Linked DNA regions of Homo sapiens. The protein of the gene in region 2 interacts with the protein of the main gene of each other region in a pairwise test. Each region holds a gene or a part of one and is shown on either strand. Other genes may lie near its edges.

What was found.
Region 1: the proteins of KPNA4 (region 2) and MAT2B interact in binary tests that used the Homo sapiens proteins (3 or more experiments, as listed by UniProt).
Region 3: the proteins of KPNA4 (region 2) and FAM50B interact in binary tests that used the Homo sapiens proteins (3 or more experiments, as listed by UniProt).
Region 4: the proteins of KPNA4 (region 2) and PLAA interact in binary tests that used the Homo sapiens proteins (3 or more experiments, as listed by UniProt).

What each region holds. Positions count from the first base shown.
Region 1 is NC_000005.10:163,500,663-163,508,647, forward strand, and holds the start of MAT2B (methionine adenosyltransferase 2 subunit beta), read left to right. Parts: upstream 1-4,956; 5' UTR 4,957-5,024; coding exon 5,025-5,087; intron 5,088-7,985.
Region 2 is NC_000003.12:160,520,572-160,527,571, reverse strand, and holds part of KPNA4 (importin subunit alpha-3), read left to right. Parts: intron 1-1,464; coding exon 1,465-1,634; intron 1,635-1,727; coding exon 1,728-1,772; intron 1,773-5,661; coding exon 5,662-5,793; intron 5,794-7,000. UniProt on the Homo sapiens protein: Functions in nuclear protein import as an adapter protein for nuclear receptor KPNB1. Binds specifically and directly to substrates containing either a simple or bipartite NLS motif.
Region 3 is NC_000006.12:3,844,653-3,851,851, forward strand, and holds FAM50B (protein FAM50B), read left to right. Parts: upstream 1-4,720; 5' UTR 4,721-4,834; intron 4,835-5,136; 5' UTR 5,137-5,159; coding exon 5,160-6,137; 3' UTR 6,138-6,665; downstream 6,666-7,199.
Region 4 is NC_000009.12:26,902,866-26,909,272, reverse strand, and holds the end of PLAA (phospholipase A-2-activating protein), read left to right. Parts: intron 1-1,274; coding exon 1,275-1,439; intron 1,440-3,196; coding exon 3,197-3,762; 3' UTR 3,763-5,901; downstream 5,902-6,407. UniProt on the Homo sapiens protein: Plays a role in protein ubiquitination, sorting and degradation through its association with VCP. Involved in ubiquitin-mediated membrane proteins trafficking to late endosomes in an ESCRT-dependent manner, and hence plays a role in synaptic vesicle recycling.

The DNA.
Region 1 (7,985 bases), on a different chromosome or scaffold from region 2:
TTTTTTTTCTTATTGTTCTTATTTCTCTGAGGCATACATGTAACCTTATAAAAACTGCCAGTTTTCTAAAGTGGTTGTATCATTTTATACTCCCTCTAGCAATAAAAGAGCATTCTAGTCATTCAAAATGCTTGTTAGTGAAGGAGTTGAGAATATACTACTCCAAAATATGCCACACTGGCATTTTGACTATTTTAAGTTAAATATGCTTAAAAAACAGCAGGCACAAGAAGATCACCGTGACCTTTCTTCTGTTTCTTAAAAGCAGATGAAATTCTCACATGAATGATGCCCTCCCGTACCAGAAGTAAAGTAACATTCCTATCACCAAAGACAGGAAGTTAATGCCAAGATAATTCTGTACCAACCTTATTAAAATAACTGATCTTCTAGCCTCAAAAATTTACTTTTTCACAATTTAGTATTCTGTCTAATTTGGTATTTAATTGCAACTCTAACTCCATCTTTGGGTCTTCACTTCCTTTGGAAGGGCCCATGCCACATTAAGTTTGTATAAAATAGTCTTGTATGTTGATCTACCTTAATTTAATTCTTAAGTCTAGCCAGAAAACCCTGAAAAGGTGGAAGTAAAATTTGCCTCCCTTATATTATCATTTGATGCTTTCAGTCTTTAACTTTGGCCATTCTGTTAGGTATGTAATGGTATCTTGATGTGGTTTTAATTTGCTTCTCTAATGTTGAGCATCTTTTTATGTACTTATCGGCTATTCTTATATCTTCCTTTTTAAAGTGTTGTCTGAACTGGGCGCTGTGGCTCATGCCTGTAATCCCAGCACCTTGGTAGGCTGAGGCAGGCGGATCACTTGAGGTCAGGAGTTCGAGACCAGCCTGACCAACATGGTGAAACACCGTCTATACTAAAAATACAAAAATTAGCCGGGTGTGGTGGCATACACCTGTAATCCTAGCTACTCAGGAGGCTGAGGAAGGAGAATTGCTTGAACCCGGGAGGCGGAGGTTGCAGTGAGCCGAGATCATGTCACTACATTCCAGCCTGGGCAGCAGAGCGAGAGTCCGTCTTAAAAATAATAAATAAGGGCCGGGCGCGGTGGCTCACGCCTGTAATCCCAGCACTTTGGGAGGCCGAGGCGGGTGGATCATGAGGTCAGGAGATCGAGACCATCCTGGCTAACAAGGTGAAACCCCGTCTCTACTAAAAATACAAAAAATTAGCCGGGCGCGGCGGCGGGCGCCTGTAGTCCCAGCTACTCGGGAAGCTGAGGCAGGAGAATGGCGTGAACCCGGGAAGCGGAGCTTGCAGTGAGCCGAGATTGCGCCACTGCAGTCCGCAGTCCGGCCTGGGCAACAGAGCGAGACTCCGTCTCAAAAAAGAAAAAAAAAAAAAAATAATAATAATAATAATAAATAAATAGCGTTGTATGGCAGATGCACCTGACAGCAATAACTTTAAGCATACCCTGAGAATACCCTGTGGTCTAAGAAGAATGTGTGCTTGGAGCTAAGGAATCCGGGAATGGCCAAGGCGAATATTCACTCCTTATCTGTGGAGCTGCTTGGGAGGCTGAGGCTGTAGAATTACGTGGGGCCCAGGAGTTCGAGGCTGCAGTGAGCTGTGATGGCACCACTGCTCTCCAACGTGGGTGACAGAGGGAGACCCTGTCTTGAAATAATAAAAATAAATAAATTATGCCCAGTTAGCCACTTGGGATCCATCTTGAAGGACTGGCTTTTTCAGGTTCACATTTGTTCACAAATGCAAACACACACACAACAATTCCTCATAATTTATATTAATAGATTTCTCTGAATGCCTCTTAGAGTTTACCATGCGCTGTGTGCTCTAAATGAATGTAACATTAAAAGTCAGATGATTTTTTTAGTTCAATTTGAATGGCAATTTTTGATGTTCTTAAATTGGTACAGAGCCATAATTCAGAATAGCGGTGCAAAGCTCACTGAGCACGTTCATGACCCTTGAAAGTCTTCGAAAACAGATTACTGGGCTTCGCTCCCAGAGAATGATTTCGTTTCTTAGGTTCTGTGGTGCAGGCAGGTTTGGAAATCACTTATCTAGAAGTCCTTAATGCTTTGTGAAACTTAAGGCCGCTCACTCCATCTACCATTTTCTCAGAGGGCAGCATAGTATTAATGGAAATGACCCGTTGCATTTTACTTCTTGCGTGCTGTTACCACCACTGCCTTTTACTCTCCTTTGAAATAATTAAAAGCACTGGGAAGGGAAAGCACTGGAGAATTTTACTAAACATAATCTGTTGCAATAAGGTGTAACTAAATAAAATGATAGAAAACTGTGCCTTTTAGAACAGGAATCAACTGCATGATCTGTGTGCTTTCCAAAAGTGTGGCTCACTCTTCTTTTGCAAAAGAAAACTACAAGGAATCTTGACAGGAAGTTGTTGGGTTTTTGTTTTTGTTTTTGTTAAGTAGTTAGTTCTACCAAATAGTTTTGCAAATAGACCCAGGCTTGACTGGCAATTAAACATGAAACTTCTCATTGGGTATTTTCGAGACTACTACGGGGAATCAGCTACCAGCTTACTGCCATGTGGAGAACTGCACGAGATTCCGGGATTGGAATCAAAATGCTAATTTAAAAGGTCAAGTGAAGCTGCTCCTCACGTTTTGGCGTGCCTGCGCTCTCTGCAGGCAGAAGCGAACAAAGACCCAGCAAGAGAAGGCAGAGGCTAAGACCCATCCCGTATCTGCTCTCCTGAAATAATTCTGGAGTCATGCCTGAAATGCCAGAGGACATGGAGCAGGTAAGAACTAGCAATTCAAGAAATGAAGCATTCTAGAGTAAGAGATGCTTTAAAAGCATTCCAGTGAACGCCTGCTAAAACCAGAATTGTTGTGTAAAGAAAATAGAAACGGGTGTCATTCATTTCCTTAAAACATAACCTCGGGACATGGAAGAATAAGCCAACTTTAGTTACTGACCCGGAGAACCAGGTTATGAAGGGCTCAGCTAAGTCTCACTAGCTGACAATACAGAATTGCACTTTCATTTACCATTTTAAATGCAATTATGTATATAAAGTTTCTACATAAATAAGGATTTTATCTGTAGTGTGTTCCTTTCCAGATGTTCTTTGTCTTTGTATGAATTGAATCTGCTAACATAACTTTTAGTTTCAGGCTGCTCTCTTTAAATGTATAGACTTAGCCACCACACGAAGTTGTATATTGTCTATGTTAAGAATGGCGTTTGATTCGCATAGACCCTACCATCATTAAAGAAAATGATTAAAAACCATATCCAAACATATGCCCCTAGAACTGTACCCAACTTTTACGGGGAAAGTATCAAGTCAGATTTTCAAAAGCAGCCAAGTTAAATTCTTTCTGTTCCTCAAGACTAGGCTGCTCTGAGAATCAGAATGCTAATTGCATATGCTTGCCCTTAAACCTGCTTCACGTTGAAGAATGAAGAATTAATTTTCTTTTCTCCCATAGAAAGGTAAGATTACATCACGTGTTGCGACTAGAAACTTTAAACCGAATTCCCAGTTAAGAGAAAAAGTAGTAAGATGATCTTGGCTGCTCCCCCGGCCCTCTTCCCGCCCTCTTCTTTGTTGTCCCCTGATTATGCTTGTTTAGCGCTGGGGCAGTCCTCAAGGATTCCCTAAATAAAGCCAAACTAATGAACAGTAATAGCCTGTGTTTAAAAAAAAAAAAAATCGGAACATAAGAAACCTCAGGCTGTCTTCGATTACTGTTCTAGAGAAACTTTATGTTTACACGAATAAGGAAATGAGTTTTTGTTGGGGGTTGAGGAGGAAGGAAAGTCATGGTGTTCTGACGTGGAAAACTTCTTTAAAAGGCTGCTTAGTCTTTAGTTTGAAAATAAACCAAAAAGGTTTAGGAGTCGGGGAAAGGCCCTAGGAAAATCCAGACAGTGGTCACGTTTGTGGACGACGTTTAGAGCTTGCTATCCTGGGCACACAAGAACCCTTGGACTGTTCGGTGCAAAGTTGGCAAATCCTACACGGCCTGTGCCAGGGTTTACTTTCTGCATCAATTTCACAGGCGTCCAGCCTGGCTGAGGATTTTTTGCGGTTTTTAACTGGAAGGGAAATAAGTCGGCATCAGCACTTAGGGCTGCTTAACTTTTAAAAGGTGGTAGAACGCCCAGCCTTACACGCTGCTGCTTAAATTCTCGGTGCTCACCAAGGCTGGGCTCGTGTGGCCCAATCCTGCAATCCCCGAGGCGGTGTTTCTTAAAGAGTGGGCTTGATTCTGGTTAAACCCATTAAGAAGTCGGACCCCGGGCTCGTTTCTTGTTCTGTAATTATGGGTAAAGTCCAAGGATCTGCGTTTTGAAGAGGTACCTAAGTAGTTCATCTTCCTTCCCCCTACAACTTTTTATTTTTAATTAGTTAAAAATAGTTTTACATTTTTGATATCTCACACACAGGTTTTTTCTTTTTTTAAGCATCCCAGGAAGACAAATGGCTCAGACGCCAACCCTTTTATTTTTATTCCTTGTCTTTTTCTAAATCTTTCAAAACCCCCACCTAGAGCTCTAGAGATGTGTCCATTATGCTCTACCCACCTCCGCCCCCGCCCCCATGACTTTAAAATGCTTTTTATTCCACTTTTTATATTGCTCAGTCGATCCTCATGCACTGCGCAGTCTGCAAACTTGAAACTCAAGGCGATCCACTTCAATCTTTTCCCGAGTCAAGAAAAAAAGGAAAAAAAGTAGAATAAAAAGCACTCAAATAAAATCTCCGAAACAAAACCTGAATTCACTGCCTAAGGTCAGGGCCTTTCTTTTGTGTGTCGCTTTAAGCATCGGCGCGTGGGCTGGGGGCAGACCGCGCGTACCCGCCCTCTTTCTGGGGCGTCGGCGGAGCGTGGCCAATCAACGGGCGCGGCTATGGCAGCGGAAGCCGGAAGCGGCGAGCGGGGTCGTTCTGGGCCTAGGGGAGGCGGGCCGAGGGCGTCTGAGCTGAGGCCCGCGTCGATCCTGGGTTGGAGGAGGTGGCGGCCGCTGAGGCTGCGGCGTGAAGACGGCGGGCATGGTGGGGCGGGAGAAAGAGCTCTCTATACACTTTGTTCCCGGGAGCTGTCGGCTGGTGGAGGTGAGGGAGTCGGCCTGGGCGTCTCCGGTGGGAGCGGGGGCGCCGAGGGGGACGAGCCACCGGGGCTCGGGCGGCTTTGCAGGCGTATTCCGCCCGGGTCAGAGCCTCCGGCCGGGAGTGGTCTCACCGCCACCCTCCCAGCCCCGGATCCGAGGGGGGCGCCACCGAGTTTGTTTATCTCAGCGCACACGGGTCAGTGTTTTTTTCTTCCAGCCACTGCGGCAGGAAGCAAGTAGGTGGAGGTTTTACTTTCGAGTTCTGTCTCTGCTCCTGAGGACGAAGAGGTTTTTCAGAATTGTTTGTTTTGATTTTGGTTTTCCCCGTTTATTCATCTTTGGTTCGTATTTCTCGATCTTACAAGTTCGTAGGTTTGAGAAAGAACAGGAAAAGGTGACTTCTCACAAATAACAGTGCTGGAGATGACAACTTATTGAACTCTTAAGTTCTCAGCACTATGTTATGCACTTGACGGGCATTACTTTAATCCTCCACTGTGAGATACTTGTTATTGCCTCATTTTGTAGACGAGAAAACGGGCATAGAGGGTGAGACATTGGCCCAGGTTCATTCCGTAAGGTTGGAGCCTGGAATTCAGATACAGGTTTGTGTGACTGTCTTGGGCTTTGAACCACTACGGAGTTTCCCTGAAGGAAGATTATGGTGATGATTGGAAGATCCATCTCTGGTGCCCCCCTCGCCCCCGTCCCATCCTGCTCCATTCCACTTAAGGGCCTCCAGCATTAATCTGTCCACAGAACATATCCAACCCTGGGGATAAGAACACTACTAATGCCCAGACCATGTCTTTTGGAGAGAGTAGAGAATATAGGAGATGGCTGTTTCTGTTATTGCAAAGTTTTCATGCTTCCAAATTTACTTAGGGTTTTCAAATCACTTTGGTTCTTTGAGGGTAAAGTTAGGATAAATGGTCTATTAAACCTCTATGTTCCTAGGTCCTCCAGACCGTGCTGAGTGCATGTTACATACGTTTACATTTATATGTATGCATTTGTATGTGTACGTGTGCATATAAAGCTTAATCTACTTTCACAAAAAGAAGTTCAGTATAAAAATGAAAATAGCTTTTCGTGTTTTCCTTCATTAAAAATGAAACAACGAAGAGCTTGGCACAGACTTACTGCTCTCAAAACCTGTAGAATTAAAGCTTACTGACTCATGAGAACGAGAACTGTCTCATAGTTAACGTTAGAGAAGCATCCTGGAGTGGTTGTTGTTAGTAATACTGTCTGTGGAGCACAGTAGCGTCGCAGTAGAAGTTAGACCAATCCCACCTAAGTAGTCAGAGAATCTTAAAAAGTAAAGCCCAGTAATGTTTACCTTAAGGGTCTGTTTCTGGGGAATTAAAAAATTAAACATGGAACTGTGCCAAGTTTTAAAGTTTCCAAAAACGACAAGGTATTTACCACTGAAATTTGGGAAAACCACATACTAATAGTATTCCATTCTTTACTTTTCTAGAACATTTTTAGTAGACATTAATGCAGGTGTGCTAAAGTAGAAATCACTGTCCCAGAGTACTGTGTTGGACCATTTGGAAGGAGCCATGTATCTCCCATTACCTATACAATTTGGTATCATTCGATTAGATACGATAATAAGAATATTTATTTATATGTACTTAATTTTTCAAGAAATGTTTTTTTGGTGTCCATAAATCTGGTCCCTTGGAGTGATTGAATTCCGTACTTCAGAGTTTAGACAATAAGAGGCAGATACGTTTAGAGTAACTTAAACTGATATTAGATCTACTTTCCCCCATATAATAAAAATTGAGAAAAAGTAGACTTCAGGCAAAGTATTATCAACTCTTTATTGTGCCTTGAGTGAACTAGATAGCATTTTATTCTTTCATTCTGACTTTCTTAAAGTGTTTAGACATTTCTTCCTTGTGCACAACTAAAATAATTTATGGAGTGCAGGTCCAAAGTAGTTTTTAGAGGGATATTTCTTTTTCTAAAGAACGAACCAAAAAGCCTCAACAAAACAGTGTAAAAGGCAGAGTATTGCTTATATAGAAGCTCAAAAACAGAGATATTTGTTTGGCATATTTTAAATTTCGGAGTAATGCATATTCAGAGGAAAAGTTACCTTATTTAAGTAAACGAAACTATTCGGACTCCTCGTGGTAGGGATAATATGGAAAATGTTAGAAATATAGAACTTTAAAGCTGAAAGAGCCTTAGTCATTTTGTCTAAATGCCTTCCCCATTTACCAATGAGGAATTAGATCAATAGAGATAGAATAACTTCTAAACACCAATTTGTGGCAGAACAGATAAAACTTTAATCATTCATGAAACCAAATATTAGTTCACAGGATTGAGACAAAATGCAGTGTATTTGACTTGACCAGAGAAGCAAGACTCAGGTTCTGGTTCCAGCTTTTTCTCTTTTACTATAGACAAAACATTTAACACTGGACTTCTTGTTACTCTCTTTGGAAATAATATCTCTTCTAACAAGCTGCTGGGTTTTTTTGTTTTCTTTTTTTTCCTCTTGCTCTTTCACCCCGTCTGAAGTGCAGTGGCTCAATCTCTGCTCACTGCAACCTCTGCCTCCAGGGTTCAAGCGATTCTCCTGCCTCAGCCTCCCAAGTAGCTGAGATTATAGGCGCCCACCACCATGCCCGACTAGTTTTTCTATTTTTGGTAGAGACAGCGTTTCACCATGTTGGCCAGGCTGGTTTTGAACCCCTGACCTCAAGTGGTTGGTCCACCTTGGCCTCCCAAAGTGCTGGGATTACAGGCGTGAGCCCTGGCACCCGGCCTCAAACTGCTATTAAAAAAACAAAAACAGCTATGATTGTATACTTATATAACACGTTAGTTTTCTTTTTTTTGGTTTTTTTGTTTGTTTGTTTTTTTGAGATGAAGTCTA
Region 2 (7,000 bases):
TAAACCAATAATTTTTCTCCGTAATGACAGTTCTGAGAAGAGTCTAAAATGAAATTTTTTCTCTCTTGCAGACTTCAGTACATTAGAATTTAGTAATGTATAAAATATAGTAATATTATTTCCTGTCACCATGAATCAACAAGACATAACCATAGCCTTTTGACAGTCTGGTTAAATATTTAACACTGTGATTACTATAACTTTCAGGTTCTCTCTGATAAATAATTGTAAGGAAAATAAAGACAATTCTGATATTTCAAGGATTTGTTTTTTTAACTAGAGCCTAAACTCAAAAATTCAAAGAACTATTCTCCAGTAAAGGATGGAAAAAATCTGAATTGTATTGTGCCCCAGTATAGCTCAGAGACCTAACAGTTATGAGTGGGGGCTGAGGTACTGTTTGTAGGGGTATTGCTAATCTAGTGAAGGAGAATGATTCTAAAGATTATTTTTGCCAAATTCTTTATTCTTGCATGGAAATAATCATTGTTGCTTTGATATGCCATCTCTTTATTGCCCTTATACAGGGCCAACATGAAAGTAAAGAGTGGTTATGAGTTTTTAAGGGAGAATTTCTCTGTAAACCATTCTTGACATTGGGTTTATACTATTAGGAATGCTATTGTTTCTATATCCAGACTCCCTCACTCTTTTGCTTTTATACCAAATGTTAGATTTAGAGCTATTATACAGCATCTTGATCTTTCATTTTTTTATTCCAGTGACATTCCGTAATTAACATGAATATAAAGATGCAAAAAGAACAAACATTTTATCTCCAGATATTATAGTGCAAGGGAAGGTGCTTTCACTTATGGTAACATTTCAACATGGCTTCATATTAGAAACTGCAGTGATGCTTCAGATACAGAAATTAAACTTGGCAGTTCTCTGCAGCAGTGGTTCTCAAACCTTAGCATGCAATCAGGACTACATGGGGTGCTTGTTAAAACACAGAATTCCAAACCCATAGAGTTTCTGCTTCAGGAGGCCTGAGCTAGAGCCCAATAATCACATTGAGAACCACTATTCTAGCACTGGTTCACCCTTTTCTTCTGACATAGTTTTCTAAGTGTATAGAGTAATTTATAGTTCATAACCTTGATGCTCTGATACGGGATCATAAGTACAAATTCAACAAATATTTTCTTGATACATCTTTTTTATCACATGAAAGTTTGTTAAACCAAGAGTATTGTTGAGAGAGAAGTTAAAAGCAGCAGTTTAATTAAGTGAGCAGCAAAATGCTGAAGATGGGAATAATGTGCAAAAGAATACCTTATCACTTTATGTTGCCTCTCTTGGCTCAGAGACCTTGAATGTGAGCCTGCTTGTTATTGTCTAAAACTGAACAGTGTATCTGGATAAAATACATGAAGCAGCATATTCCCAGTGCTTTGTGTTTTCTGAAAATGCTTACTGTCAGTATGTTTTATTGAGTAAATTAATCCTTTTTTTCTACAGGTGATGGGCCCCAGTGTAGAGATTATGTCATAAGTCTTGGAGTTGTGAAACCTTTACTTTCCTTCATAAGTCCATCTATTCCTATAACATTCTTAAGAAATGTTACTTGGGTTATGGTCAACTTATGTCGCCACAAAGACCCACCACCACCAATGGAAACCATTCAGGAGGTAAACACTTTTAAAAAAAAATTAAAAGAGATACCATTATATATATATTTTTTATTTGTGTATGTTTTTAAATCTACATATTTCTCTCCTCAGATTCTTCCAGCCCTTTGTGTTTTAATTCATCACACAGATGTAAATGTGAGTAAATGTGTCCTATTATATATTTATGTATGTATGTATGTATTTCTAGGGCTTCCCCTGTGACATAGGGGAGAAATATTATACTAACACATTGTGTCAGCATACTATCAGATTTTCCCATTTCAAGAGTTATTTTATATTAGATTAGTTATTTTATAATATTTTAATATTTACTCTATGTTTATCTATATCACAAAATATAATACCAGTTAAGAAATCAAGCATAACTGTTATTTTGGTGTGGACAATATTGTATGTATGTGTATATATTAGTGTTATAAAAACTGACATTAAAAGTTTTTAAAGTTGCCAGATAGTGGTGATTTCTCTTACTAAGATCATGTCTTTAATTGTTCTTGTGCTTTTTACAGAAGGTCATTTTGACAGTTTGGCCAATGAAAGCACACACAAATAGTGCTATTTTTGTTTTTTGAAAGATGAAAAAGGAAAATGTTTGTGCATGGATTTGTATTCATATACACATACCAAACCATGGACATCAATTGCCCTTTAATTCCATTTTTATTCTATTTCTCAGTTACAGTGACTGGCAGTGGCTTCATTTATCAAGATAACTTGATTATCCAAACAACAGGAAAAAAAAATCAGTGCAGGCAAGATTTTAAACATAGCAAATATATTTTGCTTATTTTTACTAACACAGATGGCAGAGGAAAAAGCAACTCAGGGAGTATGAATGAGGTGGAAAACTGCCCTGAGTGCTTGTAAAAGCCAGACCAGCCTTTGGTGTGTTAGAGAAACCAGGAATATAATGGGTAAGGGAAAACACATGAATGAAATGTTTAGCAACAATCAGGAACTCATGTGGTTCTTTAAAAACAGTTTGGCATGGTGACCAGTGTTGGACAAGCTGCTTCATTTCTTTACAATTTAAAGGCCTATGCCTTTTGGCCAGAATTTAATTTGTATGGAACAAATTAAAATTAGAATTTTACTGTATCAAACAGTGACATAATATATAAAATTCATTAGATGAACATGATCTCTGTGGTAGAGTTTTTGTTTGTTTTTAGCCCCAGATAGTTTAGGATCTTAAAAAATGTGTAAGTAATTTTTGGTTTTGGCTCCTTAATAGCCAAGTTCTTTGATTAAATTGTGAATTTCAATATTTTGCTTTGAAAGATTTACAAGAGGCCAGGTGTGGTGGCTTATGCCTATTGTCCCAGCACTTTAGGAGGCTGAGGCAGGAGGATCACTTGAGTGCAGGAGTTCGAGACCAGCCTGGGCAACATGACGAAACCCTGTCTCTATGAAAAATACCAAAAAATTAGCCAGGCATAGTGATGTGCACCTGTAGTCTCAGCTACTCAGTGGCTGAGGCAGGAGGATCTCCTGAGCTGGGGAGGTCAAGGCTGCAGTGAACTGTGATCATGTCACTGCACTGCAGCCTGAGTGACAGAGCAAGACCCTGTCTCAAAAATAAATAAATAAATAAATAAATAAAACGATTGGCAAGAAAGATTTAACTTCAAAGTTTATACCTCTACTAGAAAACAAGACATCTTGGTTGACTTTATTTAGAGATAGATTGTGTTCTTTCCACCTATTTACTCCAATCTAGATGAGACTGTGACTCCATTTTCTTGCCTTTGATGTATCTTGAAGAATTTCTCAAGCCTGTTTACATTGTTCTTTTTAGTAACATGATTAACAAATAATATTGCTTACTAAATAATGTGTTAGAAGTTTGATTTGAATTATGATTTTGATCTGAGCATATTAGTGACATGTCCTTTAAAAACATGTATCTAGCTTTTATATACAGTTATGAGCAAGTAACTTGAAATTTTTGGCCTATGTCAACAAATTTTAGCATATGTTAATATTCCAGAAAAGAAACTCAGTTACATTTGCAAATTGAAATTTAGGTTTTTTCACATATATTGATACCATTTTTTTATGTGAATTCTTTTTTTTTTCTTTTTGAGACAGAGTCTCGCACTGTTTCCCAGGCTGGAGTGCAGTGGCATGATCTCCACTCACTGCAACCTCTGCCTCCTGGGTTCCAGCGATTCTCCTGCCTCAGCCTCCCGAGTAGCTGGGTTTACAGATGCCCGCCACCACGCCTGGCTAATTTTTTTGCATTTTTTAGTGGAGACAGGGTTTCACTATGTTGGCCAGGCTGGTCTTGAACTCTTGACCTCGTGATCCACCCACCTTGGCCCCCCAAAGTGCTGGGATTGCAGGCGTGAGCCACCACACCCAGCCTGTGCGAACTCTCATTTGATGTCTTCTTTTTACATTAGAAATATCCTTAGAGCTTTCTTGAATTTCCTAAGAAACAATGGCAAAGCATTATTTTCACCTTTTAGGAGTTTCGGGGTGTCTTTTTGGTTTTTTTTATCTTATTTTTTTATTTTCTCTTGGGTGTCCTAAGCATAACATTAGTTTACAGTTTTACGATTTTTTTAAAGTCAGGGTCATAAAAACAAGAAAAAATAAACAATGCCGAATTGTTTCTGTTTTTCATAGAGACGGGGTTTCACCGTGTTGCCCAGGCTGGTCTGTAACTCCTGGGCTCAAGCAGTCCACCTGCCTTGGTCTCCCAAAGTGCTGGGGTTACAGGCGTGAGCCACTACTCCCTGCCTAGTTTATTGTTTTAAAGGTTTTACACTTCTCCAGCTTGTCTTGACACAGAGTTCATATTCTGGAAAGGCTTTGGAAGTAGTTTTAGGCACAATTATTATTCCCATGTCTTTGTCAATAATTTGTGTATTTATTTGCAGCAGTTACAGTTGTTTGTCATACTGCCCTTTGGTCATAACTTCTAATTAGGACCTAACGTACTAGGAAAGATCAAACACATGGCCTGTTGTACTTAAAGATGTAATCGTTAAAAAAAATGGTAGGCTACTTAGTAGAAGTTGATTACACAGGCTTTTTTTTTTTTTTCATAAGTAGCAGCTGTAGTGAAGTACGTATTTTTTGTTTTAATTACAGGTCTCACAGATTGACCTATGATTATTTTAATGTCTTGATCTGCAGCTGTAGGGGACTTCCACTATTTAAGAAGTTGCTGGCCGGGCGCAGTGGCTTACGCCTGTAATCCCAGCACTTTGGGAGGCCGAGGCGGGCGGATCATGAGGTCAGGAGATCGAGACCATCTTGGCTAACACGGTGAAACCCCGTCTCTACTGAAAAATGCCAAAACTTAGCCAGGCGTTGCGGCATGCGCCTGTAGTCCCAGCTACTCGGGAGGCTGAGGCAGGAGAATGGCATGAACCCGGGAGGCGGAGCTTGCAGTGAACCGAGATCGCGCTGCTGCACTCCAGCCTGGGCGACAGAGCGAGACTCCGTCTCAAAAAAAAAAAAAAGTTGTCTCCAGTTCTGTAAGGCAAAACAAACTGGTTGGAAAAGATTAAAGTATTTTATACTACAATATGAATACTTGGGTTATTGGCTTTAGGCATATCTACATGGTACTTACAATACTAGAGAACTCCTTGAATATATTCATCTAGCCCAGATGTTTTGAACAACTGTGCATGTTGGATACATGTAGTCTTTCCAGCTTTATACATGAGCCACAATGTTTTTGGACCTGTTATCCCTCAGCCTTTGGGAAAGAGAATGTCTTTTTCTCCTGTTTTATGAGCTGTGTAGTGTGCGTGTGTATCTTAGTGAACTAAGATTGGATACTAATCTGGGATCAGAATCCTGAATATGGCTAAAAGATGTACGTCTTAGTACAGACATTTATAGATGATGATGTTTAATACCGTAGCGATCAGATTCCAATGAATTAAACTGAGAGAAGAAAAGAAGGAAGAAGGTAGTTGAACAATTTTAGAATGGTTGTTTGGTCAAGAATTACTAAAATGAGAAAATATTTAAAAGTTGTTTGAATTTTTATTTTATTCATTAGATACTGGTAGACACAGTCTGGGCCCTCTCTTACCTTACTGATGCTGGCAATGAACAAATACAGATGGTAATAGACTCTGGAATAGTTCCTCATTTGGTTCCTCTGCTCAGCCACCAGGAAGTTAAAGTTCAGGTAAGTTTGTTCTTAGTTAAATTATAAGTATTTCTTACCACTAATTGCTTTAAGCATGGCATTCAAAGATGGACAATTTCAGTAGTTTAAAGTATATTCTTAGCATAACAACAAATCTGTGATGGAAAGGGGAAAATAAATAATAAGATGCCATTGTAGATTACTAATTTCTTTTTTTAAGATGGGGTCTCACTGTCACCCAGGCTGGAGTGAGGTGGCGTGATCTCAGCTCACTACAACCTCCACTTCCTAGGTTCAAGGAACATTCTCCCACCTCAGCCTCTTGAGTGGTTGGGATCACAGGCACACACCATCATGTGTAGCTAATTTTTTTCTATTTTTGATACAGTCAGGGTTTTGCCATGTTGGCCAGGCTGCTCTTGAACTCCTGGCCTCAAATGATCCTTCCACCCCAGCCTCCCAAAGTGCTGAGATTACAGGTGTGAACCACCATGCCTGGCCGGATTACTGATTTTTAATGTAGACCAGGGAAGTTCATTATAGCAACATGCATGGCATCTGAAACAAGTATTGACAGACACTTATTTTTTCCTACTCCTCTTCTTTTTGTTCTTCCTCTTTCACTTCCCTACTTCTTTTTTTTTCTTCCTTGCCAACCATCCTTATTTACTCACCTGGCAAGTTTAGTTAACTCTTATCTTCATTGGTGCTGAAATAAGGGTACTCTACTGAAATGTGCTGTTTAGGGACTTTCTAAATTGTTGCTTTTCACTTATTTAAATTTATTTTTTATTGTTTAAATTCTTTCACATAATATTTATCCCAAAGAATTTGCATTTAGAAAGAGCCAAAAACAGAGTGTGAGAAGTTCTCAGAGATATAAGCAGTAGCTGTTAAGCTACAGTTGTAATGGGGGAGACGCAGCAAGCTCCCTCTACCTTTCTGAGGTAAATAGTATATTTTAATCTGCTAATGGCTTAGAATCTGTAAAGTACAATAATCGCATAAGAGAAACCGTTAGTCTGTAGCCTAAGTCATTATGCCTGAACATCAAAATAAACTGTGTGGAGCTGTTTTTAATTTCTCCTGCTCAACCCCTGGAGATTTCTGTTTCAGAAAATATTTCTTAGAAACTTGAGCTTTAAAATGCTCTTCAGGTGATACTGATACATAGTCAGATTAGAGACCCTGTACCTTAAAATTAAAGCACTTTAAAGAAGGAACACTTAGCTAAATACAGAAAGAA
Region 3 (7,199 bases), on a different chromosome or scaffold from region 2:
GTGGGCCGAGATCGCACCATTGCACTACTCCAGCCTGGAAGACAGAGCCAGACTCCGTCTCAAAAACAAAAACAGAAAAAAAAACTTAAATGGAAAAAAAGTCATCAAATGGGATGCAAAGTTTGATTAAAATTGCTAAATATATACAGATCTATGTGCACATAAAATATTGGAAGGGAACTTGCAAACATTAATAGTTATGTTACTTATGTGTTCATGTTGAGTGAACTTTTTATTTATTTACATTTCTTTTCAAACTTTTCTGTAATATGCCTATTTCCTCCTTTATGACAAAACCTATTGGAAAAACAAACCATAATGTCTCAATCAGGGAAGAATAACTAGAACAATCATTCTTTTTTGTTCTATTTATTCTTCTTTCTTAAAGTTTCACCATTTGCGTGGGCTCGGGTCCTCAGCCTCATTTTGCTGATAAAATTTAAGAGCTTAAAGCAGTAGCTTTTAGTTTTGTGGGTATTTTCGCTGAGAATTAAGGCTGAAAGAGGAAGTTATCATCTTGGAACTTAGGGGAAAATTCTACAGAACAGTATATCAGACTTTTAGGATAAATCTCCTTCTTTCTAGTTGTTTTTCTTGTTAAACTTTTCTGAGAATTTGAGGCTCAACCTTTTAATTCTGGGAGCTGGCTATAGTATTTGGAGGCCGTGACTGAGTTCAGGAGGTGGATGCTGGATAATGGGAGGGTGGATGATAAGGTTTAGGGATGATATTGACATTCAAGTTCTGATTCGATTAGAGAAAGAGTGAATATAGTATTTGTGGCCAAACGATAGTCGATTGAATTAAAGTTTAGTTGGTTGGATCATTTAACTGAAAAAAAGAGGTGGAGAGGCTATCTTATTTATGTTAAGTGTAATAAAGGTAATTATATGGGAAACCTGAGAGAGGAGACTATTGGTAATTTTGTCCATCTGTGGGTGGTGATGGTGATGGTGGGTGCTCCAGGCTTCCTCTTGGAGATGACATTTGTGCTGATCTTCAGGGATAGCACAGCGAAGGGCAGGACTTTCTAGAAAGAGTACGTCCAGAGGTAACAGTTATGAAAGGGCAACTTTTTTTTTAGATGAAGTCTTTCTGGGTCACCAGGCTGGAGTGCAGTGGTGCGATCTTGGCTCACTGCAACCTCCATCTCCTGGGTTGAAGCAATTCTTCTGCCTCAGCCTCCCGAGCAGCTGGGACTACAAGGCATGCACCACCACACCCAGCTAATTTTTTTTATTTTTATTTTTATTAGAGACGGGGTTTCACCATGTTGGCCAGGATGGTCTCGATCTCTTGACCTCGTGATCCACCCGCCTCGGCCTCCCAAAGTGCTGGGATTACAGGTGTGAGCCACTGCGCCTGGCCTGAAAGGGCATCTTCTATTCAGGCGCAGTGAAAAAGCTGGGTGAATGCTGCAGGGGTCCACCTATTAGAGACCTTAGAGGACAAACAAAGAGATTCTGATGTGGCTGTTACAAGGGAAGTTGGAGTTTTTCAAGTAGGAGAGTAATGTTATCAGATTCATTTTTTATGAAGATCTCTGAGGATATTGTATAGAAGTTAGACAAGAACAAGAATACAGGCATACCTCGGAGATACTGTGGGTTCAGTTCCAGACCACCACAAAGACAGTCACACAAATTTTTAAATTTTCTAGTGCATATAAAAGTTATGTTTATACTATACTATAGTCTAGTAAGTGTGCAGTAGCATTTTGTCTAAGAAAATAATGTGCATAATTTCATTAAAAATACTTAATTGCTAAATAATGCTAATGATCCTCTGAGCATTCAGTGAGCTGTGCTCTATTTGCTGGTGGAGGGTCTTGCCTCAGTGTTGATGGTTGCTGACTGATCAGGGTGGTGGTTGCCAAAGGCTGGGCCTGTGGCAGTTTCTTAAATCAATATTGAGTTTGTCACATTGATTGATTCTACCTTTCACGAAAGATTTCTTTGTAACATGTAATGCTGTTTGAATCAACTTCTTCCAAACTTCTGTTAATGTTGATATTTTACCTCCTCCCAAAAACTGTGAATGTCCTTCATGGCACCTACAGTGGTGAATGCCTTCCAGAAAAATTTCAATTTACTTTGCCCAGATCCATCAGAGAAATCATTACATACAGCAGCTATAACCTTTGGAAATGTATTTCTTAAATAATAAGACTTAAAAGTCAAAATTACTCCTTGATCTATGGGTTGCAGAATGGATGTTGTGTTAGCAAGCATGAAATCAACTTTAATCTCCTTGAGCATCTCCATCAAGCTCTTAGGTGACCAAGTGCATTGTTAATGAGTAATAATATCTTGAAAGGAATAATCAGAGCAGTAAGTCTCAACACTGGGCTTAAAAATATTCAGTAAACCATGCTGTAAACAGATGTGCTGTCCTCCAGGTTTTGTTGTTCCATTTACAGAGCACAGGCACAGTAGATTTAGCATAATTTTTAAGGGCACTAAGATTTTCAGAATGGTAAGTGAGCATTGGCTTCAACTGAAAGTCTCCAGCTACACTAGCCCCTAGCAAGAGAGTCAACCTGTCCTTTGAAGCCATGAAGCCAGGCATTGACTTCTCCTCTCTAGATATAAAAGTCCTAAATGGCATCTTCTTCCAATAGAAGGCTATTTTGTCTACATTGAAAATGTATTGTTTAGGGTAGCCTCCGTCATCAGTGCTCTTAGCTAGATCTTCTGGATAACCTGCTGCAGCTTCTCCATCACACTTGCTGCTTCACCTTGCACTTTATGTTATAGAGGTGACTTCCTTCCTCAGCCTCATGAACCAACCTCTGCTACCTTCAGACTTTTCTTCTGAAGCTTCCTCACCTCTCTCAGCTTCACAGAATTGAAGAGACTTAGGGCCTTGCCCTGGATTAGGCTTTGGTTTAAGGGAATGTCGTGGCTGGTTTGATCTTCTATCCAGACCACTAGAACTTTCTCCATATAAGCAATAAGGCTGTTTTGCTTTCTTATCATTCATATGTTTACCAGGAAAGCGCTTTCAGTTTCATTCAAGATTTTTTTCCTTTGCATTCACAACTTAGCTAACTGTTTGGCAAAAGAGGCCTAGCTTTTGGCCTATCCTGGCTTTTGACATACTTTCCTCACTGAGCTGAATCATTTCTAGCCTTTGATTTAAAGTGAGAGACGTGTGACACTTCTTTTCACTTGAACACTTAGAGGCCATTGTAGGGTTATTAATTGGCCTAATTTCAATATTGCTGTGTCTCAGGCACTAGGGAAGCCTAGGGACAGGAAGAGAGATGAAGGAACAGCCAGTCAGTGGAGCAGTCAGAACATACATAACATTTATCAGTTAAATCAATAAACGTCTTTGTCTTCTACTGCACACTTCGGAGTGCCCCCAAACAATTACAATAACCTCACAGAACGATGATCACAGATCACCATAGCAGATATCACAATGAAAAAGTCTGAAATATTGCAAGAATTACCAAAATGTGACACAGGAACACGAAGTGAGCACATGCTGCTGGAAAAATGGAGCCAGTAGGCGCTTGACGCTGTGTTGCCACAAATCTTCAATTTGTAAAAACAAAAACAAAACACACAGTATCCCAGAGCTCAATAAAATAAGATATTCTTGTATTCTGGTGATGGGGCAACAATGAGAAGGCTTTAGATTAAAAAAAATGCTAATTTCCTAGATTAAGGCAAGTGGTGGGGAATGGGAGAAAAAGGAAAGTGTGAAAGGCTCTTCTGTAATTGATTACCTGTGGAGGAACGTCATTCCAGGAAAAGGCCTAGGTTTCTGGCTTGGACAATTTGATGAGGGCTCACACCGTGCTGTTCTCCTCTGGATATGTGGGTGCCATATGTAATTATCATATGATTCACGCTTCTTGGTAAGGTTATGCTCACAGGCATTGTTGCTCTTAGGCGGGAGGAGGCTGAACCGCAGTATGTATTTCACAACCAGCTTTTCCAAACTAGGTCCCAGGAAGCACTGGTTTCGGCGAGTGTTACCAGATCTCCTGCAGGGGAGAAACGGTCACGAAACATGAACTGGTCTGCCCTGCTCTTGGAGAGTTACAGTGGAAACTGGCATGTTAGAGGCTCACAGTAAAGACACTGCTACACTTTAACTCAGTGTCCCATGGTTATTAGAGCTTAGAACCCGGGGGAAACTGCTGTATAGAAGAGGTCAAACAAGCTGAGTGCAGGTTTTGTCACGAAACTGGGGGGCGAGTAGGGTTCTATTATCAAAGAATGGTTGTGTTGGGGCCATAAGAAAGAATTACAGGCAGTGGTGCGCAGGTAATGTTCACGAGACGCCACAGCGGGGTAGCATCAGAGGCGGGAGGAGGAGGGTTGGAGAGCAGGGCCGTGTTGCAAGGCTCTCTGGGTGGCCACAGCAGCTTGCGCTGCGCCCACATTGCTTCTGCGTGTTTACAGTTGGGCACGAGAAGGCTCAGCACGCACGCACAGCAGGTGGGGGCCCGCCCTGCCCACAGCGTGAAAACAGGAGCCCCGGCCAGCCACGGCTGGGCAGGGCCAGAAGCGCCTCCTCCAGGATCCTCCCCGCGCTGGCCCGCCCCACAGGAGCACCGCCCCTACCAGGAGCCCGGAGCTCTTCCCAGGGCCCGCCTCCCCGCCAGGGGGCGATCCACCTCCACTTCCTGTTTCCGCAGCCGCCCTACCAGGAGCCTGGCACTCTCCTCAGGGCCCGCCTCCCCGCCAGGGGGCGCACCGCCTCCACTTCCTGTGTCCACGGCTGTCGCGAGAGCCCGGGGCGAGTGGGCCTCTGCTCGTGGGTGGTTCTCGTGGAGGTCAGCTCCCGCGTGTCTCCGCTCGACAGGGTGCTTGGGCAGGTAAGGGTCCGCTCAGTAGCCCAACCCTCTCTGTATGCAGCTCCCCAAATTCAGCGCTGCGCTCAGGCATGGCAGCCACCCGTTACGTGGGGCCGTTCGCATTTGCATTTATTGAGGTCAAATAAAATGCTGGAAATTGGTGCCTGGTGACACTGTCAGGTTGGTGGTTACCCTAGCAGGTCGGCCCAGCCCCTGAACGCTTCCATCACTGCCGAAAGCCCTGTGAGGAGGCGCAGAGCTGAGCATTCCCCGCCGTTGCGTGGGCCCCCCTCTACCTGCCGCGTTTTTCCTCTTTGCTGCAGAGCCCATCGGGTAGGCGCGGGCCATGGCGCAGTACAAGGGCACCATGCGCGAGGCAGGCCGTGCCATGCACCTCCTCAAGAAGCGCGAAAGGCAGCGGGAGCAGATGGAGGTGCTGAAGCAGCGCATCGCCGAGGAGACCATCCTCAAGTCGCAGGTGGACAAGAGGTTCTCGGCGCATTACGACGCCGTGGAGGCCGAGCTGAAGTCCAGCACGGTGGGCCTGGTGACCCTGAACGACATGAAGGCCCGGCAGGAGGCCCTGGTCAGGGAGCGCGAGCGGCAGCTGGCCAAGCGCCAGCACCTGGAGGAGCAGCGGCTGCAGCAGGAGCGGCAGCGGGAGCAGGAGCAGCGGCGCGAGCGCAAGCGTAAGATCTCCTGCCTGTCCTTTGCACTAGACGACCTCGATGACCAGGCCGACGCGGCCGAGGCCAGGCGCGCCGGAAACCTGGGCAAGAACCCCGACGTGGACACCAGCTTCCTGCCAGACCGCGACCGCGAGGAGGAGGAGAACCGGCTCCGAGAGGAGCTGCGCCAAGAGTGGGAGGCGCAGCGCGAGAAAGTGAAGGACGAGGAGATGGAGGTCACCTTCAGCTACTGGGACGGCTCGGGCCACCGGCGCACGGTGCGGGTGCGCAAGGGCAACACGGTGCAGCAGTTCCTGAAGAAGGCGCTGCAGGGGCTGCGCAAGGACTTCCTGGAGCTGCGCTCCGCCGGCGTGGAGCAGCTCATGTTCATCAAGGAGGACCTCATCCTGCCGCACTACCACACCTTCTACGACTTCATCATCGCCAGGGCGAGGGGCAAGAGCGGGCCGCTCTTCAGCTTCGATGTGCACGATGACGTGCGCCTGCTCAGCGACGCCACCATGGAGAAGGACGAGTCGCACGCGGGCAAGGTGGTGCTGCGCAGCTGGTACGAGAAGAACAAGCACATCTTCCCCGCCAGCCGCTGGGAGGCCTATGACCCCGAGAAGAAGTGGGACAAGTACACCATCCGCTAACACCCGCCTGCCAGAGCGGAAACCGGGGGTGGGGGGAGACACTCATTTCTAGGCCCCATCACCAGTCACTTGATTTCGTGACCTTGATTTCTTCCCCCAAATTTAATAAAGACAGAGGGTTCTCATGATTCACATTGGTTGTGCTATTGCTGATGTTATGCTTTGGTTGCTTGGTTGGTCTTTTCTGAGTATTTTAGTGTTGCCACCTGGATTTGCTGCATTGCTCTGCTGAGCTGTATTGAAACCATGACTGGGCCCACTGTCAGACAGAAATTAGAATAGGAGGCACATTTTTTACCTGGTGGTTATGAGCATGGACTTGGGGGCCACAGTGACTGAGTTTGATTCCCGACACAGCCTCCTCCTTGCTGTGTAGTTTTGGGTAAGCTTATTAAACCCCCATGCCTCAGTTTGGTCACCTGTAAAAGGAAATAACAAGAGCACTTACTTTATAAGATTGATGTGAGTATTAAGTGAATTAATATTTGTAAAACGCTTAGCTCTTAATAAATGTTTCTGTTGTTATTATTATGGTTTTGGTTAATTTATTTAAAGGACTGCAATGACCTAGTTCAGAACCATTTGAGGGCAAAGGTGGACCTGCCCATCACTGGTCCCAGGATCAGCAGTTGCCAGCAGGAGGGGGCTAGCAAAGGTTGGGGAGCAGCCCCCCTCTAGTGGGCTTTAGCTGGGTTGTTTAGCCCAGAAGTTAGGAGGACAGTGAGCTAATGCAAGTAGCCTGCAGGGTCAGTATCATTGATTTTCCTTTTGCTCCAATATGACTCCACAGGGCACAGTTACAGATCCTGTCTTCATTGAAAATGTTTGTATTTTATTCATTGTGGATTATTTCTGTTAATTTTGATTTTTAAAAATACTGTATTCAGGCTGGGTGTGGTGGCTCGTGCTTGTAATCCTAGCACTTTGGGAGGCCGAGGTGGGTGGATCACCTGAGGCCAAGAGTTCGGGACCAGCCTGGCCAACATAGTGAAACCCTGTCTCTACTAAAAATACAAAAATGTGCCTGTAATCCCAGTTACTTGGGAGGCTGAGGCAGGAGAA
Region 4 (6,407 bases), on a different chromosome or scaffold from region 2:
TTATTTATTAGAGTTAAAGCTGTTAATACCTGAGATTAGTGAAACAGGCCCTAGTTTCCATTTATAATTGATTTCAATGGTGTAAATTTGGATAATTTTCCTTATTATCGGAATTTGGACTTTTTTATTCTTGAGATAAAGATTTTTAAAGAAACACAGTAACTCAAAGTCATGATACAAAGGATACTGATACTAAAGATACATGCGAAGGATTTGAAGGAAATTGTTTCATGAAATGAGAACATGGGAAGAAAGGGCAGTATGTCCATTAAATAAATTTTTAAAATAATGTGACATCAAATATGCATATGGAACTAAGTCATAAATTAAATGTTATCAGTAGGCATTTAACTCTTTGACTATTTCATTGACAGCTGTAGAATTTGACATAAATTGGCTAAAAAGTTGTTATAAATTTTCTCATGGAGAAACTAGGTTATTGACTTACACTTGAATATATATTACACATGATACTGCTTTGAAAGTCATCCAAAATGGAGGCCGGACGTGGTGGCTCATGCCTGTAATGCCAGCACTTTGGGAGTTCAAGGCAGGTGGGTCACTTGAGGTCAGGAGTTTTTCACCATGTTGGTCAGCCTGGCCAACATGGTGAAACCCCATCTCTACTAAAAATACAAAAATTAGCTGGTGTGGTGGTGCATGCTGGTAGTTCCAGCTACTCGGGAGGCTGAGGCAGGAGAATCGCTTGAAAATCCTGATGGCGGAGGTTGCAGTGAGCCGAGATCATGCCACTGCACTCCAGCCTGGGCAACAGAGTGAGACTCCATCTCAAAATAATAATAATAAGGCCAGGCGTGGTGGCTCACACCTGTAATCACAGCACTTCGGGAGGCTAAGGAGGGTGGACCACGAGGTCAGGAGATTGAGACCATCCTGGCTAATGTGGTGAAACCCCGTCTCTACTAAAAACACAAAAAATTAGCCAGGCATGGTGGCAGGCGCCTATAGTCCCAGCTACTCAGGAGGCTGAGGCAGGAGAATTGCTTGAACCTGGGGGGCGAGCTTGCAGTGAGCCAAGATGGCGCCACTGCACTCCAGCCTGGGCGACTGAGCAGGACTCCATCTCAAAAAAAAAAAAAAAAAAGACAAAGCTCATAAGCCTTATCCTTACTTTATGGTGTTTGATAATTGCTGAGTAAAGTCTTAACTCCCCATGGTGTACACTAGAGTACTTTTATTGAAAGTCTTGGCATTTATATATTATCTGGCCAATTACAGTTAGAGAATTTTGAAAGTTTGGTTTTGGGTTCTAGGTAAACTGAAGGAACTTAATGGAACTGCACCTGAAGAGAAGAAGTTAACTGAGGATGACTTGATACTTCTTGAGAAGATACTGTCTCTAATATGTAATAGTTCTTCAGAAAAACCCACAGTCCAGCAACTTCAGATTTTGTGGAAAGCTATTAACTGTCCTGAAGGTAAATAAACACTCTTCAAAAATGTAACCAGAAAGCAAGAAGTTTTATCTTCATTTCTATCAATATTACTGGTATTTGTGGATTAAATGAAAGTTAACTTCGGTAGTTCTAAATCACTATGGAAAATCTTCACGAAAAGGGTTCACTACACTACTGGAATTGATGATCTTGTTTCCGTTACATGCCTTTTGAGAATCTGAAGGTAATATATGATCCCCATATATGCACCAGTTTGTTTTTTTGTTGTTGTTGTTTGTTTTCTTTGTTTTTTTGTTTTGTTTTGTTTTTGTTTTTGAAATGGAGTCTTGCTCTGTCGCCCAGGCTGGAGTGCAGTGGCGTGATCTCGGCTCACTGCAAGCTCACTGCAAGCTCCGCCTCCCGGGTTCACGCCGTTCTCCTGCCTCAGCCTCCTTAGTAGCTGGGACTATAGGCACCCGCCACCATGCCCGGCTAATTTTTTGTATTTTTAGTAGAGACGGGGTTTCACCACGTTAGCCAGGATGGTCTCAATCTCCTGACCTCGTGATCCTCCCGCCTCAGCCTGGGATTACAGGCGTGAGCCACCGCGCCCGGGCATGCACCTGTTTGTTTACTGTTTCAGAGCATTTGTGGATTCCTGGCCAGGCATCCAAGATACTCTTAGTGACCTGTTAACCCTAGGCTACAAATATTTACTGTAAGTTTTTTTTTTTCCAATTATGTCAGTTAAGTCTTTTTTAATTCTCAAAGAGTCCTTGCCTGTTATTTTTTTTTATGCCACTGATTTATTGGAGAAAAAGTCTTTTTTTTTTTTTTTTCAATAAAATGTCCCATATTATGGATTTTGCTGATGTGTTCCTCCATCTCTGTATTTATTGCTAGTGGCAAAATTAGATTCTGGTTCAGTAGGTGTTTTTTTTTTAGGTGAAATCCTTTATAAATGATGATGCATACTACTTTTACATTACGGAGCACATAATGTTGGATTTCCTCACCTTTAGTGATGCTAAGATTATTTTGTGCATTCATTCAGATGGCATCTACCCAGGCCCTTGATTATAAAGCTCCCACCAACCTATAAGCATCCTATCACTTGTTAACTGGAATTCTTCTCTTAAGAACTTTCCGGCTGGGCACGGTGGCTCATGCCTGTAATCCCAGCACTTTGGGAGACCAACTTGGGTAGATCACCTGAAGTCAGGAGTTTGAGACCAGCCTGACCAATATGATGAAACCTCGTCTCTACTAACAATACAAAAATTAGCTGGGCGTGGTGACGTGCACCTGTAATTCCAGCTACTTGGGAGGCTGAGACAGGAGAATTGCTTGAACCCGGGAGGTGGAGGTTGCAGTGAGCCGAGATCATGCCATTGCAATCCAGCCTGGGCAACAGGAGTGAAACTGTCTCAAAAAAAAAAAAAAAAAAAAAAAGAACTTTCCCTGTTTAATTGTTCGGTCTTACAGAATTTTTTAAAAGCAAAGTCTGCACCCCATTCTTTCCATTCATTTTTGAATACTCACAGTGTGTAGGCTGTTTGAGAGAGTTACCTTATTTTTAAAGCGAATATGATCTTACAGCAATAAATCTAGTTTATATAAATATGAAAAATTAACAAAAGTTTCAGAAATATATGCATTTTTTTTAAAGCAGACACATGATTTTTCACATTTTCTAAAATGGTTAGTTTTGCAGTGGGAAAATAAAATCCTTCAAAGTCGATAGTCAAAAGAAATTTTCTTTATTTTCATAAGCATTAATGACTTTTTTTTTTTAATAGATATTGTCTTTCCTGCACTTGACATTCTTCGGTTGTCAATTAAACACCCCAGTGTGAATGAGAACTTCTGCAATGAAAAGGAAGGGGCTCAGTTCAGCAGTCATCTTATCAATCTTCTGAACCCTAAAGGAAAGCCAGCAAACCAGCTGCTTGCTCTCAGGACTTTTTGCAATTGTTTTGTTGGCCAGGCAGGACAAAAACTCATGATGTCCCAGAGGGAATCACTGATGTCCCATGCAATAGAACTGAAATCAGGGAGCAATAAGAACATTCACATTGCTCTGGCTACATTGGCCCTGAACTATTCTGTTTGTTTTCATAAAGACCATAACATTGAAGGGAAAGCCCAATGTTTGTCACTAATTAGCACAATCTTGGAAGTAGTACAAGACCTAGAAGCCACTTTTAGACTTCTTGTGGCTCTTGGAACACTTATCAGTGATGATTCAAATGCTGTACAATTAGCCAAGTCTTTAGGTGTTGATTCTCAAATAAAAAAGTATTCCTCAGTATCAGAACCAGCTAAAGTAAGTGAATGCTGTAGATTTATCCTAAATTTGCTGTAGCAGTGGGGAAGAGGGACGGATATTTTTAATTGATTAGTGTTTTTTTCCTCACATTTGACATGACTGATAACAGATAATTAAAAAAAGAGAATACGGTGGATTAAGTAAAATTTTACATCTTGTAAAGTGGTGGGGAGGGGAAACAGAAATAAAATTTTTGCACTGCTGAACTGTGAGATTTTCCTGTGTAATTTGGGTAGATTTTCAAGAGTGTGAACACAAATTTAAAATAAGCTATAATCAGCAACAACACAATGACAATGACATCTTCCCCTTACCTTAGCCACTAAGAAGACAAGGGCTGTTACTCATATAACTTGCTTTTATTACTTAATGTACACCAAACTGTTGTTGTCAATTATCTTTTATTTAACTTCTCCACCTTCATTGCTAGATCCTTCGAACAGCACTGATACATTTCAAGGTCTTGTTTTAGGATAACTACTTTAAAATTTTTTAAATTATATTAAATTTATAAAATAATTTATAAATTCATATATTAAAACAATATAAGATAATTTCTTGATTTGTCATTTATAAATCCTAAAGTATATTTGTTTAATGGCCTATTTTTAGATGAAGAAAAAGCCAGTTGGTAAGCTGTGTTAGTCATGTATCAGTTCAGACAGACGAGGTCTCAATTTAACTCCAGGCTTAGATCCAGTTTCTTTTGCCCTTCACTATTTGAGGTAACTTCATTTTTCATTCTAGTTTTGATATTTGGCTGTTTATTTTTGTCATTTTCCATTATTTCAAAGGGAATTTGGAACATGTTGAATTTTATCAGGTGGTTACATAAGCAAGAGTACATCAAACTGTATTATTTGAAAGTCTAGAACCTGTCATGTGAAATTACTATTTTTGAGCCCTCTATGTGGTCCAGGCAGAATAGTAGACACACTGATATTTAATCCTTAAAACCCCTTTAAATGAGGGCCAGTATTATCTCTGCTTTCAGAAGTAGACATAATAGGATGAATCATATAACAGAAAAAAAAAAGTGAAGCCAAGAGGGAGTTAACTACTTAAAGTACATGCTATGCTATACTTTCTAGAGAGATCACAGATGTGTGTGAACATCCTAGCAATTAACACAAAGAAGGAACCATCACATTAATTACACAATTTATTGTGTCTGAGGTAACCCAGTTTCTTGAGAGAAGCGTAACTATTTTCAAAAGTGGGAAAGATCTTTTCATAAAGACGTTGCCAGAAATAGCAACATTCTCAATACTCGTGGTGTAAAAACCATGAATCCCCTGGCTTAATGCCAAATTATAGCCTTAGAAGAATAATTGTTCCCCAAATGGGCAAGAAAGGTTCTAATTGTCAAGAGTAACCCAAGTAAGAACTTTTGGAATATCAAAAGGAAATGAGCAAAATGTAAATAGAGGGGATATGTACTTTGCTGAGTATTAAATTGGAACTACCTGGTGTGTACCTGGACTAAATATTCTGTTCACTGGCTCAGTTGAGTACCTATACTTTTCGTTTTTTGATTGGGTTTAGGTGGTTATGTCAAAGTTAAATGGCAAAATTAGGAATTTAACCCAGGTCTGGCTGGTTCCTTTACAATACACTGCTTTCTTAAGTACAAATAATTTAATTGCAATATTTAGGAAAAGTAGGTACCTTTGAATAATGATAAGAAACAGTCTTGGTTAAGAATATGAGTTCCCTCTTCAAAATGTAAGGGGTGGCAAAATGTAAACACTGCTTCCTATTACTGTGCAAGTTTTTTTATGTCAACTTTACTATTTCATGTTTGTTGTGGAGATTACAAAATATAGCTTAGCAAAAGGAAACAATCTCACTTGAAGGATATGTTAAATAATTTAATGATATTTTAAAGATTTTCTTTTTTAGTTAAACTTTCCTATGATTCTCTTAATGTTTTTTCTGAATACAAAAGTAATAAATATTTATTGAGTAAAACACACACACCCCAAATAAAAATTGCCTGTAAGGCCACTATCTAGAGAAAACTATTCTTAACATCTTGTGGCATAGTGACTATGTATGTAAATGTATTTTATTTTATTAAAAAAGCGTTGTATCATACATACTCTTTGATAACCTGATTTTTAAACTTATATTTGGTACAAAGAGCTCCACATTAATAAATACAATATTCTATCATATGGATATACCCATTTCTTATTAACTGGCACTGTTTCCAATTTTCAGCTATCAAGCAATGGTAATGACAAATCTCACAAGAGTCTTACTAGTTCCCTAGGAACATTTTATACATGGAATTGGTAGATGAAGATAGTGTACATTGTTTAGACTGTTTACATTGCCATCGCACCTCTAGTGGTACAACTCTTGGAATTAATGTACTTCATATTGCATTTGAAACCCCATTGCCTACAAAAGAGTTAAGTTATTATTGTCTCCATTTCATAACTATTATCTTCTCTCTGGCATTAGGTTCCTTTAGATGAGTATGTTACTGTTTATATGACTAGCTGAATTTATAACTAAATAGCAATGCAATGAAATTTATTATCTACCTCATAATCTTAAGTGATGGAAGAAGCATAGGTAAAAATGGATTCTTTACATAGATAATTCTGGGGATAAGAGTAGGAGGTAGGTTCCTCAGCAGTTATCACTTTGTATGTTATGGTTATTTTTTTTTT